Regions from separate parts of the Homo sapiens genome. Here regions 1 and 2 are each linked to region 3. Evidence: fine-mapped expression QTL. A gene starts in region 3. Each other region holds a variant in brackets. All regions are shown on one strand. Distances are from middle to middle. Region 1 overlaps KCNH7 (potassium voltage-gated channel subfamily H member 7). Region 2 overlaps IFIH1 (interferon induced with helicase C domain 1). Region 3 holds the start of IFIH1 (interferon induced with helicase C domain 1).

The links. PIP is the estimated chance that this variant, and not a neighbour inherited with it, causes the effect.
Region 1: its variant is the best candidate, but not a certain one, in a credible set for the expression of IFIH1 in tibial artery (GTEx, PIP 0.60).
Region 2: its variant is the best candidate, but not a certain one, in a credible set for the expression of IFIH1 in whole blood (TOPMed, PIP 0.87).

The regions. Positions count from the first base shown.
Region 1 is chr2:162,468,233-162,472,474 of GRCh38, reverse strand. The region is part of intron 6 of KCNH7 (potassium voltage-gated channel subfamily H member 7); the gene reads left to right. Among named protein-coding and RNA genes, the nearest start is that of GCA, 130 kb to the right of the region's middle. The variant G/A (reference allele first, on the strand shown) is at 1,955.
Region 2 is chr2:162,272,711-162,276,952 of GRCh38, reverse strand. It overlaps IFIH1 (interferon induced with helicase C domain 1), which reads left to right. Exons shown (of 16, transcript NM_022168.4): 11 at 7-266; 12 at 3,009-3,158. Among named protein-coding and RNA genes, the nearest start is that of FAP, 31 kb to the right of the region's middle. The variant G/C (reference allele first, on the strand shown) is at 1,991.
Region 3 is chr2:162,316,722-162,320,963 of GRCh38, reverse strand. It overlaps IFIH1 (interferon induced with helicase C domain 1), which reads left to right and starts at 2,280. Exons shown (of 16, transcript NM_022168.4): 1 at 2,280-3,109. The coding sequence starts at 2,657. It also overlaps a transcript of GCA not described here. RefSeq lists enhancers at 1,048-2,247, 1,816-2,365 and a silencer at 2,396-2,485.

The DNA.
Region 1 (4,242 bases), 150 kb before region 3:
TGCTGGCTGCATAAATGTCTTCTTTTGTGAAGTGTCTGTTCATATCCTTTACCCACTTGTTGATGGGGTTGTTTGTTTTTTTCTTGTAAATTTGTTTGAGTTCTTTGTAAATTCTGGGTATTAGCCCTTTGTCAGATGAGTAGATTGCAAAAATTTTCTCCCATTCTGTAGGTTGCCTGTTCACTCTCATGGTAGTTTCTTTTGCTGTGCAGAAGCTCTTTAGTTTAATTAGATCCCATTTGTCAATTTTGGCTTTTGTTGCCATTGCTTTTGGTGTTTTAGACATGAAGTCCTTGCCCATGCGTATGTCCTGAATAGTATTGCCTAGGTTTTCTTCTAGGGTTTTTATGGTTTTAGGTCTAACATTTAAGTCTTTAATCCATCTTGAATTAATTTTTGTATAAGGTGTAAGGAAGGGATCCAGTTTCAGCTTTCTACATATGGCTAGCCAGTTTTCCCAGCACCATTTATTAAATAGGGAATCCTTTCTCCATTTCTTGTTTTTGTCAGGTTTGTCAAAGATCAGATGGTTGTAGATGTGTGGTATTATTTCTGAGGGCTCTGTTCTGTTCCATTGGTCTATATCTCTGTTTTGGTAAGAGTACCATGCTGTTTTGGTTACTGTAGCCTTGTAGTTTAGTTTGAAGTCAGGTAGCATGATGCCTCCAGTTTTGTTCTTTTGGCTTAGGATTGACTTGGCAGTGCAGGCTCTTTTTTGGTTCCATATGAACTTTAAAGTAGTTTTTTCCAATTCTGTGAAGAAAGTCATTGGTAGCTTAATAGGGATGGCATTGAATCTATAAATTACCTTGGGCAGTATGGCCATTTTCATGATATTATTCTTCCTATCCATGAGCATGTAATGTTCTTCCATTTGTTTGTGTCCTCTTTTATTTCATTGAACAGTGGTTTGTATTTCTCCTTGAAGAGGTCCTTCACATCCCTTGTAAGGTCGTAAAACTCCACAGAATCTGCTCCACACAGACCTCTTCACCCACACCATCTCCAAGGCTCTTTCTCATTGACTGCTCTCAAACACGTGTATACACACACACAAGCACAAGCATACATACACACAAATGCACACATATAGAAACATGCAAATATATACACAGGAGACCAAGTGCATCGGATTCATTTTAGATGCTTGTTAAAATTCAGATTCCTGGGCTTCACCTAGTCTCAGAGGGCAAAGAGCAGGAAATCTACCTTTTTTTTTTTTTTTTTAATTTATTGATCATTCTTGGGTGTTTCTCGCAGAGGGGGATTTGGCAGGGTCATAGGACAATAGTGAAGGGAAGGTCAGCAGATAAACAAGTGAACAAAGGTCTCTGGTTTTCCTAGGCAGAGGACCCTGCGGCCCTCCGCAGTGTTTGTGTCCCTGGGTACTTGAGATTAGGGAGTGGTGATGACTCTTAACAAGCATGCTGCCTTCAAGCATCTGTTTAACAAAGCACATCTTGCACCGCCCTTAATCCATTTAACCCTGAGTGGACACAGCACATGTTTCAGAGGGCACAGGGTTGGGGGTAAGGTCAGAGATCAACAGGATCCCAAGGCAGAAGAATTTTTCTTAGTACAGAACAAAGTGAAAAGTCTCCCATGTCTACTTCTTTCTACACAGACACAGCAACCACCCAATTTCTCAATCTTTTCCCCACCTTTCCCCCTCCTCTATTCCACAAAACCACCATTGTCATCATGGCCTGTTCTCAATGAGCCGTTGGGTACACCTCCCAGACGGGGTGGTGGCCGAGCAGAGAAGCTCCTCACTTCCCAGTAGGGGCGGCTGGGCAGAGGCGCCCCTCACCTCCCGGACGGGGCGGCTGGCCGGGCGGGGGGCTGACCCCCCCACCTCCCTCCCGGATGGGGCGGCCGGCCTGGCGGGGGCTGACCCCCACCTCCCTCCCGGACGGGGTGGCTGCCGGGCGGAGACGCTCCTCACTTCCTAGAC[G/A]GGGTGGCTGCCCGGCAGAGGGGCTCCTCACTTCTCAGACAGGGCGGCTGCCGGGCGGAGGGGCTCCTCACTTCTCAGACGGGGCGGCTGCCGGGCGTAGGGTCTCCTCACTTCTCAGACGGGGCGGCCGGGCAGAGACGCTCCTCACCTCCCAGACAGGGTCGCGGCCGGGCAGAGGCGCTCCTCACATCCCAGACAGGGCACTAGGGCAGAGGCGCTCCCCACATCTCAGACGATGGGCGGGCGGGCAGAGACGCTCCTCACTTCCTAGATGGGATGGCGGCCGGGCAGAGAGGCTCCTCACTTTCCAGACTGGGCAGCCAGGCAGAGGGGCTCCTCACATCCCAGACGATGGGCGGCCAGGCAGAGACACTCCTCACTTCCCAGACGGGGTGGCGGCCGGGTAGAGGCTGCAATCTCGGCACTTTGGGAGGCCAAGGCAGGCGGCTGGGAGATGGAGGTTGTAGCGAGCCGAGATCACGCCACTGCACTCCAGCCTGGGCACCATTGAGCACTGAGTGAACGAGACTCCGTCTGCAATCCCGGCACCTCGGGAGGCCGAGGCTGGCGGATCACTCGCGGTCAGGAGCTGGAGACCAGCCCGGCCAAGACAGCGAAACCCCGTCTCCACCAAAAAAATATGAAAACCAGTCAGGCGTGGCGGCGCGCGCCTGCAATCGCAGGCACTCGGTAGGCTGAGGCAGGAGAATCAGGCAGGGAGTTTGCAGTGAGCCGAGATGGCGGCAGCACAGTCCAGCTTCAGCTCGGCATCAGAGGGAGACCATGGAAAGAGAAGGAGAGGGAGACCGTGGGGAGAGGGAGAGGGAGAGGGGGAGGGGGAGGGAGAGGGCAAATCTACCTTTTAATAAGCTTTCTGGGTAGTCCTTATGCATAAAAAAGGCTCGAGGACCACAGCTCTCACCCCACCGGGCTTTGATAGTGGAACGTACTCTTCTAAAAAGCATATCATTTCCAACTGAAAACAAACAAAAACCAAAAGCACATATCCTTTAAGATTCACTCAACTAGTACCGTTGTCAAAGATCCCTAGATGGCCCACAGTAGTCAATTCCTCCTGCTTCCTTTGTCACATGGTAAATATTATTGGTTTGCATACAAACTACTCAGGTCAGCCCAAGAGTATCTTGAGTTCAAGGACATCTCTGGCGGTACTTCTGGTACAGGGTCAAAAGCATAGTTGTTCAATTGGTGTTTACTGAAGTGTTACCTATGGTACTAAAATATGATTTTGCTCTCAAATGTGTTGGTTTATATGAATTGACAAGGCTTTACTTTTTATTATAGCATAAAATTTCATAACAGTATTTAGCTATTACATACCACCTTAACTTTTCAAATGTACTATAACAAAGAATGAAGGCAAAGCACAGTTGCTCACACCTATAATCCCAAAACTTTGGGAGACTAAAGCAGGAGAATTGTTTGAGACCAGCCTGTGCAACATAGCAAGATTCCTGCTTCTACAAAATAAAAATTAAAAAATTAGGCAGATGTGGTGGTATGCACCTGTAGTCCTAGCTACTTGGGAAGCTGAGGAGGGAGGGTCACCTGGGCCTGGAAGTTCGAGGTTACAGTGAACTATGATTATGCCACTGCACGTCAGCCTGGTCAACAGAGCAAGCTCCTTTCTTTAAAAAAAAAAAAAGGGAAAGAGGCTGGGTGCAGTGGCTCACGCCTGTAATCCCAGCACTTTGGGAGGCCTAGGCGGGCGGATCATGAGGTCAGTAGATCGAGACCATCCTGGGAGGTCAGGAGATTGAGGCCATCCTGGCTAACACAATGAAATTCTATCTCTACTAAAAATACAAAAAATTAGTCAGGCATGGTGGCACGTACCTGTAGTCCCAGCTATTTGGAAGGCTGAGGCAGGAGAATCGCTTGAGCCTGGGAGGCGGAGGTTGCAGTGAGCTGAGATCACACCACTGCACTCCATCCTGGGCAACAGACTGAGACTCCGTCTGAAAAAAAAAAAAAAAAAAAAAAAAAAGGAAAAGAATAAATACCTTGCCCAAGATATAGAAATAGTAAAAGAAAATTAAATTCTTCTGCCAAGATATTTTGTTGATAACCTTGCATAATTTGAGGTAACAACCTGGAAATTAGATCATAAGCAAATTTCATTTGTTTTTTCTTGATAACTTTATATTCTTTAGTATGAAGACATAGGTCAGATTGTATTGAGATTTTTATTTAGATCTTGGTATCTCAATTATTTTAATGTTTTAACAATGCTGCAGAACTTTTCTTCTCTGATTGGAAATTTGAGA
Region 2 (4,242 bases), 44 kb after region 3:
TTAAAGAAAACAATAAAATGTTGAAAAGGCTGGCTGAAAACCCAGAATATGAAAATGAAAAGCTGACCAAATTAAGAAATACCATAATGGAGCAATATACTAGGACTGAGGAATCAGCACGAGGAATAATCTTTACAAAAACACGACAGAGTGCATATGCGCTTTCCCAGTGGATTACTGAAAATGAAAAATTTGCTGAAGTAGGAGTCAAAGCCCACCATCTGATTGGAGCTGGACACAGCAGTGAGTTCAAACCCATGACACAGGTATAAATATCCTTTTGGACGACTTCTTTTCTTTTCTTTCTCTTTTCTTCTTCTCTTCTCTTCTTCTCTTCTTCTTTTCTTTCAGACGAGGCCTCGCTCTGTCACTCAGGCTGAAGAGCAGTGGCATGATCAAGATTCACTGCACCCTTGACCTCCTAGGCTCAAGCAATCCTCCAGCCCCAGCCTCCTGAGCAGCTGGGACTCTAGGTGTGCACCACCACACCCAACTAATTTTTTTATCTTTTTTGTAGAAAAGGTGTCCCACTATGTTGTCCTGGCTTGTCTTAAACTCCTGGGCTCAAGCCATCCTTCTGCCTCTGCCTTCCAAAGTATTGAGATTATAGGCACGAGCCACTGCGCTCAGCCTGGACTTCTTTTCTTATGCTGTTATTACTCTTCTCAAATTGTTTTTAGTCTTTTTCTACCAATCCTCTCACCACCCATGAATACATTTACAGGATAAAACACCTGTTCTTGAAATAAAATCTAAGGCTAATAGCAATCAAATCTGTGGTTTTTGAGAGGTTAAGTGTTGTTTTAGGAGTCATTTTTCCCACATAATAATTGGAAGAACTTTCTAAGTTTCCCTTGCAAAAATAAGTGACATGTAAGCTTAACAACAAAGTTCAGAAATGATTGCCATGTAGTATCAAGTGGAAAATTCAAACTCCCACAAAAATGTGTTCGTTATAACTAGAACTATGCAAAATATATTTACATAGAATGAGACCTCTAGGGAAACTTGAAAAAACTAAAGAATTTGATATATTAGAGATTTGGGATTCTGGTAAGTAGGTTTTCTGTTCCATTTTAAGGTGTTTTGTTTTACTTTGTTTACATGTTGCTTACTGTGGGCATAGTAAAAAAACACTTGGGTAAGAAAAAAAGGCACTAGTAGACATTACAAGCATGCATGAAGCAATGATGCCTTGTTAGAGTAAAATATTCTTCTGAGGGCTAAAATCACATTGACCCTGAGTCTTTCTGGACAAATGGATACTTCCTTTCTATTATAGTTATCACTATTCAAGCCAATGGAGCAAATTAATTCTGTTTCAGTGTTTGCTGGAAAAAAATTCTTGAAATGGTTCACTATAACTCTTTATATACCCTCTACATGCACTCCTGTGAGCATTGCCAATAAAATTAATGCCAGAGAAAGTACTGTTTTCCTTGGGTAACAAGTTTGCTTCCTTCTTTTTGATGAGATGTAGTTTGCTTTATATGTTTTTCTTTTTGCCTTAGCTTCCAGAAAGCTAGCAGGAAAAACTCAAGTTCAGTCTCACAGCCTCTGTGTTGATTCTTATGAGTTCTGTTTTTAAATTTCTATTATATTAACTTTAGCGTTGTGACTTTTATTGTAAGAGGGCTAAGCTTCTCTGTAAAAAGAGGTAGAGTGCAAATGAAAAGCCTATGTTCAAGCTACTTTCTGCTCCTTATTCATTTCAAACCAAGGGGCTGTGTGCCAAAATACAGAACATATTCCCTTCCTTCCCCACTCCTTGTATCCTCACCTTGTAAACTGGGGTGGACAAACTCCTTAGCAATGGTGTTAGGCATCTATGTGATGTGACTTGAAGATCTGACACTGTCTGGAATTTTTGTTATTAAAGTTACTCCTTCAAATTAAGACACAGGCATCTTCTGCTAAAATCCAAGAACATGTAAGTTTTTATCGGGAGATGTGAGGGCCGGAGGGAGAAATTTTCAGAGAAGACTCAAGA[G/C]AGGCCTTTCTACAGGGTTCTCCGACAGTTAGGAGTAGGAGTCAAATAAGGACTCACACTGCCTCTGAGAAGAAAGGGAAGGGGATGGAAGAACATACTTTTGGTCTGGCAGCTTTATTTTTGTTTAATGTATGGGGGCAATAGACAGTGTGGATGTGCACCAAATGCCAACTGGACCAACAGCTTTGATGAGAGTGGTTATGAAAATAAAACCACATTGTCCATATCAAGCTAGGTTTGTGCTCACTCATTTCTCCCATGTAAGGATGAGAGGTCATATTTTAATTTATTTATATTGACTTTCAAAATTCAGAGTTTTTTCATTTGAAAATAGTTTTATTTACAGTTGCATAACCTCTTCTTTCATTTTTATTTATATTGTCCCTTTGAATTGATAATATATTTACCTCATTCAAAATTAATGAGGCACAAGGCATACCACTGACCTCTAGTCTTCCAGCTCCCCTCCCTAGATGCAGCTGATGTTTTCAGTTTCTCTTGTGTCCTTTTGGGAATATTCCATAGCTTCTAACTCAAATGATTCTTAAAGTGACCAAATGCATATACAGTGTGCATTTTCTCTGTGACTGAAAACAATATATCAAAGCATCTCTGCATCTTATCCTCTAAATAGCAAAGATTCTGAAGTTAATGTAGTGGGGGAAAAAAGCCCATTTTAGCTTCTGATTGTCATATCCTCTTCTCAACCGACAGCTCCTCCTTTCTTCCTCTGGAGTCACCCATCAATTTATTTCCTTGGCATAAAATGTGGTCTTCCCACCTCCAGACTGGATGATGGAAATATTTTTGTTATTGTGTGGTAATCCCAGATTGGAAATCAAATGTTGTCTCACCATTATGTCTTTGTTCAATGCCAAAAACAGATGGCAACAAATCCATGTATGATCTAATCCTTTGATTTACACTGACCAGTTGCAATTTATTATTTCTTCCTCTAATTAGAAGATTTTAATGTGTTTAGCATCACAAAATTTAATTTATTAAAATGTTTCTACAGAATGAACAAAAAGAAGTCATTAGTAAATTTCGCACTGGAAAAATAAATCTGCTTATCGCTACCACAGTGGCAGAAGAAGGTCTGGATATTAAAGAATGTAACATTGTTATCCGTTATGGTCTCGTCACCAATGAAATAGCCATGGTCCAGGTACATTCAAATACCTCTACTTACTATGTTAATTTTTATTTGTTGTGTTCCTATTTTAATTGCTTTCTTTTAGTTAAACAGCAAAAACATCTTTTTAGTTTTTAAAACAAAGCCTTTTTCCTGTTAAAAGAGCATTTTTAAAATGCTGTGCACTGTTGCCTTTCATATTGCTGTCAATTCATATAATAACCAGATACCTGTTGTATGTTTAAACAACAACTCCTCTTTAGCTATTTCTGTACCCTAAGGCTTTCCAGGACCATGACACTAGCCCCATTTGTAAGAGTCAAAAGCAGCCTCCTCTTTCCTAGGATGTCTGTGAGCCCCCAGCTGGACCAGGAATCTAAAGTACACTGTCCCACAAATGTCTGATGAAGTAACATGCCCAAACCTGAGGGAGCCCTGCTGTTTCTGCATTTTCTTCCCTTATCCTTTCCAATTTTCTGTGTGTTTAGAAGTTTTCATGATAAAATGTTGGTTGGGGGCAGACTTATAAATGTAAAAATAAATAAAAGAGTGAAATGTTCTGTTTTCATTCAGATTTCACTTTATCTCTTACCCACCTATGTTAATGGCATTATTGTAACCTGTTGAGTAGGCATAGGTGTTATGCTGATTAATAGATACACTATTCTTCCTATAAAATTAACTAAAGGGATTTTTAAATAACTTAAATTGCATCCTTGAATAAAAGGCAAGTCATAGAAGACTAAGATAACCAGACTGCCATCAAATTAGCAAATAATTTTATTTCAGGAGTCTATTTGTAAGTCAGTGATAAGCTTAGTAATCAAACTTAGAATACATTTTTCCTTGAGGATACTTTTATAGTTGATAGGCTCCTGGGCCAGGCCACAGAAGTTTCTATTAATCAAAATATACCTGAATATCACTTTCATAAAGAGGCTTGTAGAAAGTTATCACCATGTTAAATATGTTCCCATGGGAAAATGTGCTAAGAATGTAATGTAGGATGCCAGAAACTGACCTGCCTTCTCACCAGCCCTAGTGTCAAGGTCAGAGATGACCCTTCTCTCCATTCATTCCTCCCAGCTTCCTACCAAGAAAGACGACTCCTCAGTCC
Region 3 (4,242 bases):
ATTATGTGATGCTAATAGGGTTAGAGGAGGATGACTATTTGGGAAATCAACCTGTGAAACTGTAATATACATTATTATGTAGATTTACTATGGTCTTCAGGGCATTTATCCTCACCTGCACATTGCATATTTTTTAGTCATTACTTACCATCTATCTTCCCACTCCCATTAGAATGTGAACTCCATAAAAGTAGGAGCTTTGTTAATTTTATTAACTGCACCTAGATCAGTGCTGGTCATGTAATAGATACTTAATAAACATATTTTAAATGACTAGATGATACAATGAATGATATAATTTGAATGCCAAATATTTAAATATCTTTGGTTTAAATGTTTATTATTTGAGAACAGGTCAAATACCAAACATTTGATCCTTTCTCTTCCAGAGCAACAATTAAGTGGTATGAAGAAAATAACATTAACTGGTTCCCCATATTCAGTCAGCAACCCCTTCTCATTCCCCCATGTTTGAAACCAAGAAACAGAAGGATAAGTGCCAGGAAAAAGAATGTTTTTTGGTTTGTTAGTTTGTGCTTTAACATGTTGAATAAAACCCACTGGCAGCTGGGGGATAGGAGTATGTTTTTGCAACAGCCTTAAAAGATATTTTCATAGACCCAATACTTAAAATTAATAATTTGAGTGCTTTTGTAGAAACATCTAATTGGATTATCCTCTATCTGGGTACAAGGTCATCTCCCAAAATTAAGTGAAAAAGGAGTAGGGTTCTGTGAAGAAACAGAAAAGAACAGTATAAATCAGGCCTACCTGCAAGCCCAAGGTTTCATTTACTTCAACTTTCAGTGTATTTAACATTATGCCAGCTGCTATGGTCAACTCAAATACAACTCCCAGGAGAGATGTCATCAAGAGCCCACCAGTTGTGAGTAGTGTACTAGTTACTATGTAAATATATCCCTTCTTCAAGCAGCTTACAATCCTTCAGGGGTAGAAAAAGCCTTGCTACATAAGATAATTAGAGAATAAAATAAGACATGTTACCATAAAGTGCTCATTTGGATATTTTGTATGCCCCTAGTAAACACTCACCAAGACTCTGTACTTCTATTATCCTGTTCAAAGCACTATCAGGTTTTCCTGGCCTACACAGACTTTATTGAATGTACTTTGCTAACAGATTATTTTTCCTAAATATGTCTCTTTGATAACCTAAATGATCTCTCCATCCTTTATATAATTCTGGACCATGAGATTCTAGTTATGGTGCGTATGTGCCTACCACCCACAGTCACATGTGGCTACAGAATGCCTTCAGAATGAGTAGTAACCTTAAGGACTCACATTTATGTGGCTTCTGTACCAAAATGAAGCTGCCATTTTTCAGTGTGAATATGTTTTTTTTCTCTCATGACATAGACAAATGTTGATGTTTACTACAAGTTGGTACATTAGTTGCTAATTAAGTTCCTAGCTGCTCCAGCCAAAACTTGCTGTATTGAATCCAAGAAAAGAATGGCAGCTATATCAAAAATAAGTTGTTGGGGGATTTTTTTGTTTTGTTTTATTAAAGGAAAGTTGTATATTAAAGAATATAGGGAACTTACAAGCTGGGATCTAGGAAACTTTAAGTCTTGGCTTCCTTCTAAGCTGAGTTGGTGGTTCAAGTCCATCCACATCTGTTACCAGGTCCTGGTCAAAGCTGCATAAATACCAGCAATCTAAATATGAGGCAGTAAAGTTAACTGTTTATTGTTACTCACTTTTTCGAACCCACCTCCAAATTCCCAGGGAAACAAGTTAGTGTTTGGGAACCCACAGGAGGTCAGGTTTATTTTAGGAAGGACTTCCTCCTGTCTTCTCCACATCTCTGCAAAGATGTCTTCTGAGCTTCATCTCTCACCTGTCCCTCGCAGTCTCACCACCCTCAGCCAGGCCTGCCTACATTCACCAGCCGAGGGTAACTCCCTGTTCACGTCCGGGTCTGTGGCAGTTTCTGTTCACTTCCCCTTTGGAAAGTCCCAAATCACATGCTTTTATGCCCTGCACATTTTGGCCTACAAAGGACCTTATTGTTAAGGCAGAACCTGCTGGGAAAACAAAATATCCGCCGGAGGAGCTTTGCTAGAGCGTTGGTCTTGGTGTCAGAGAGAATTCGCTTTCCTTTTCTGTTTCCCGCGGTGTCCTTAACCAAAGGCCTCCTCTCTTCACCCGCCCCGACCAAAAGGTGGCGTCTCCCTGAGGAAACTCCCTCCCCGCCAGGCAGATTACGTTTACAAAGTCCTGAGAAGAGAATCGAAACAGAAACCAAAGTCAGGCAAACTCTGTAAGAACTGCCTGACAGAAAGCTGGACTCAAAGCTCCTACCCGAGTGTGCAGCAGGATCGCCCCGGTCCGGGACCCCAGGCGCACACCGCAGAGTCCAAAGTGCCGCGCCTGCCGGCCGCACCTGCCTGCCGCGGCCCCGCGCGCCGCCCCGCTGCCCACCTGCCCGCCTGCCCACCTGCCCAGGTGCGAGTGCAGCCCCGCGCGCCGGCCTGAGAGCCCTGTGGACAACCTCGTCATTGTCAGGCACAGAGCGGTAGACCCTGCTTCTCTAAGTGGGCAGCGGACAGCGGCACGCACATTTCACCTGTCCCGCAGACAACAGCACCATCTGCTTGGGAGAACCCTCTCCCTTCTCTGAGAAAGAAAGATGTCGAATGGGTATTCCACAGACGAGAATTTCCGCTATCTCATCTCGTGCTTCAGGGCCAGGGTGAAAATGTACATCCAGGTGGAGCCTGTGCTGGACTACCTGACCTTTCTGCCTGCAGAGGTGAAGGAGCAGATTCAGAGGACAGTCGCCACCTCCGGGAACATGCAGGCAGTTGAACTGCTGCTGAGCACCTTGGAGAAGGGAGTCTGGCACCTTGGTTGGACTCGGGAATTCGTGGAGGCCCTCCGGAGAACCGGCAGCCCTCTGGCCGCCCGCTACATGAACCCTGAGCTCACGGACTTGCCCTCTCCATCGTTTGAGAACGCTCATGATGAATATCTCCAACTGCTGAACCTCCTTCAGCCCACTCTGGTGGACAAGCTTCTAGTTAGAGACGTCTTGGATAAGTGCATGGAGGAGGAACTGTTGACAATTGAAGACAGAAACCGGGTAGGTGTCTGTTCAGATGGAGCTAGCCTTTTAGGCAGATTTTGCAAAGCAGGCTTCCTTGTGCGTTTGCCCCTTTCCAAATGTGCTTGACCTCTTTGGGCAAATCTAGTTTCTTCCTTTGAGAAGACAACATCTAGGCACTTTAAGACAATTTTAAAAATTTAAACACAAAAGAACTACTTTTCTAATGTTTTCACTGAAGTAAAAAGGAGTTAACTCTAGAATCGTAATGTGTATTAACAGGTAACTTTTATTGAACACTTACTATGTGCAGTTGGTATCATTTTCAAAATGTATTACTACAGTTCATGTTCAGAGTAACCCACTGAGGCTCCTAATGTTATTAACTCCATTTTACAGATGAGAAACCTGAGGCAGGTTAAATAATTTGTCCAAGGTCTCCCAGGAAAAACAGTGGCAGAGCTAAGAATTTAGCTTGTGATAGTGTTGAATGTTTTTCTTATTTAATGTAGTTCCATGGAGCAGGGGTTAGTAAACTACGGCCCATGGGCTAAATCAAGCCTGCTACTGTTTTTTTCAGGCCCACAGGCTAAGAATGGTCTTCAGATTTTTCAATTTTTAATTTTCAGTGTTCATAAAGTTTTATTGGAACACAGTCATGCTCGTTTGTTTACATATTGCTTGTGGCTGCTTTTCTACTCCAAAGGCAATTGGATGGAGACTGTGTGCCCTTAAAGCCAAAAATATTTATTATCTGGCATTTTAGAGAAAAAGTTTTCCAATCTTTGCCCTACATTACACTTTGTGCCATTTAGTCTTAGCCCAAATGGGTAAATTGCAATCACACACACACACACACACACACACACACACACACCCTTTTTCTTTAATCAAAGTTTCAACATTCTTTGAGAATCAAAATTTAGAAACAATTCATTGAAAGAATGTGTTGCTAGTTTCAGTTTTTCATGTTAGTGAAGAAACTCATTTTTCTTAAGGTAGCATTTTGACAGGGCGAATTTTACTGATGACTTTACATTGAATGTGATATGAATTATTTTTTGATAAGTGAAGATGTACTGTGATGTGTATAAATGCTGACCTGTTTGAATGTGACTTATTCAGGCTCGTAAGTCAAAAGTCTTGTTTTGGAAGACATGTAGACAAATAAA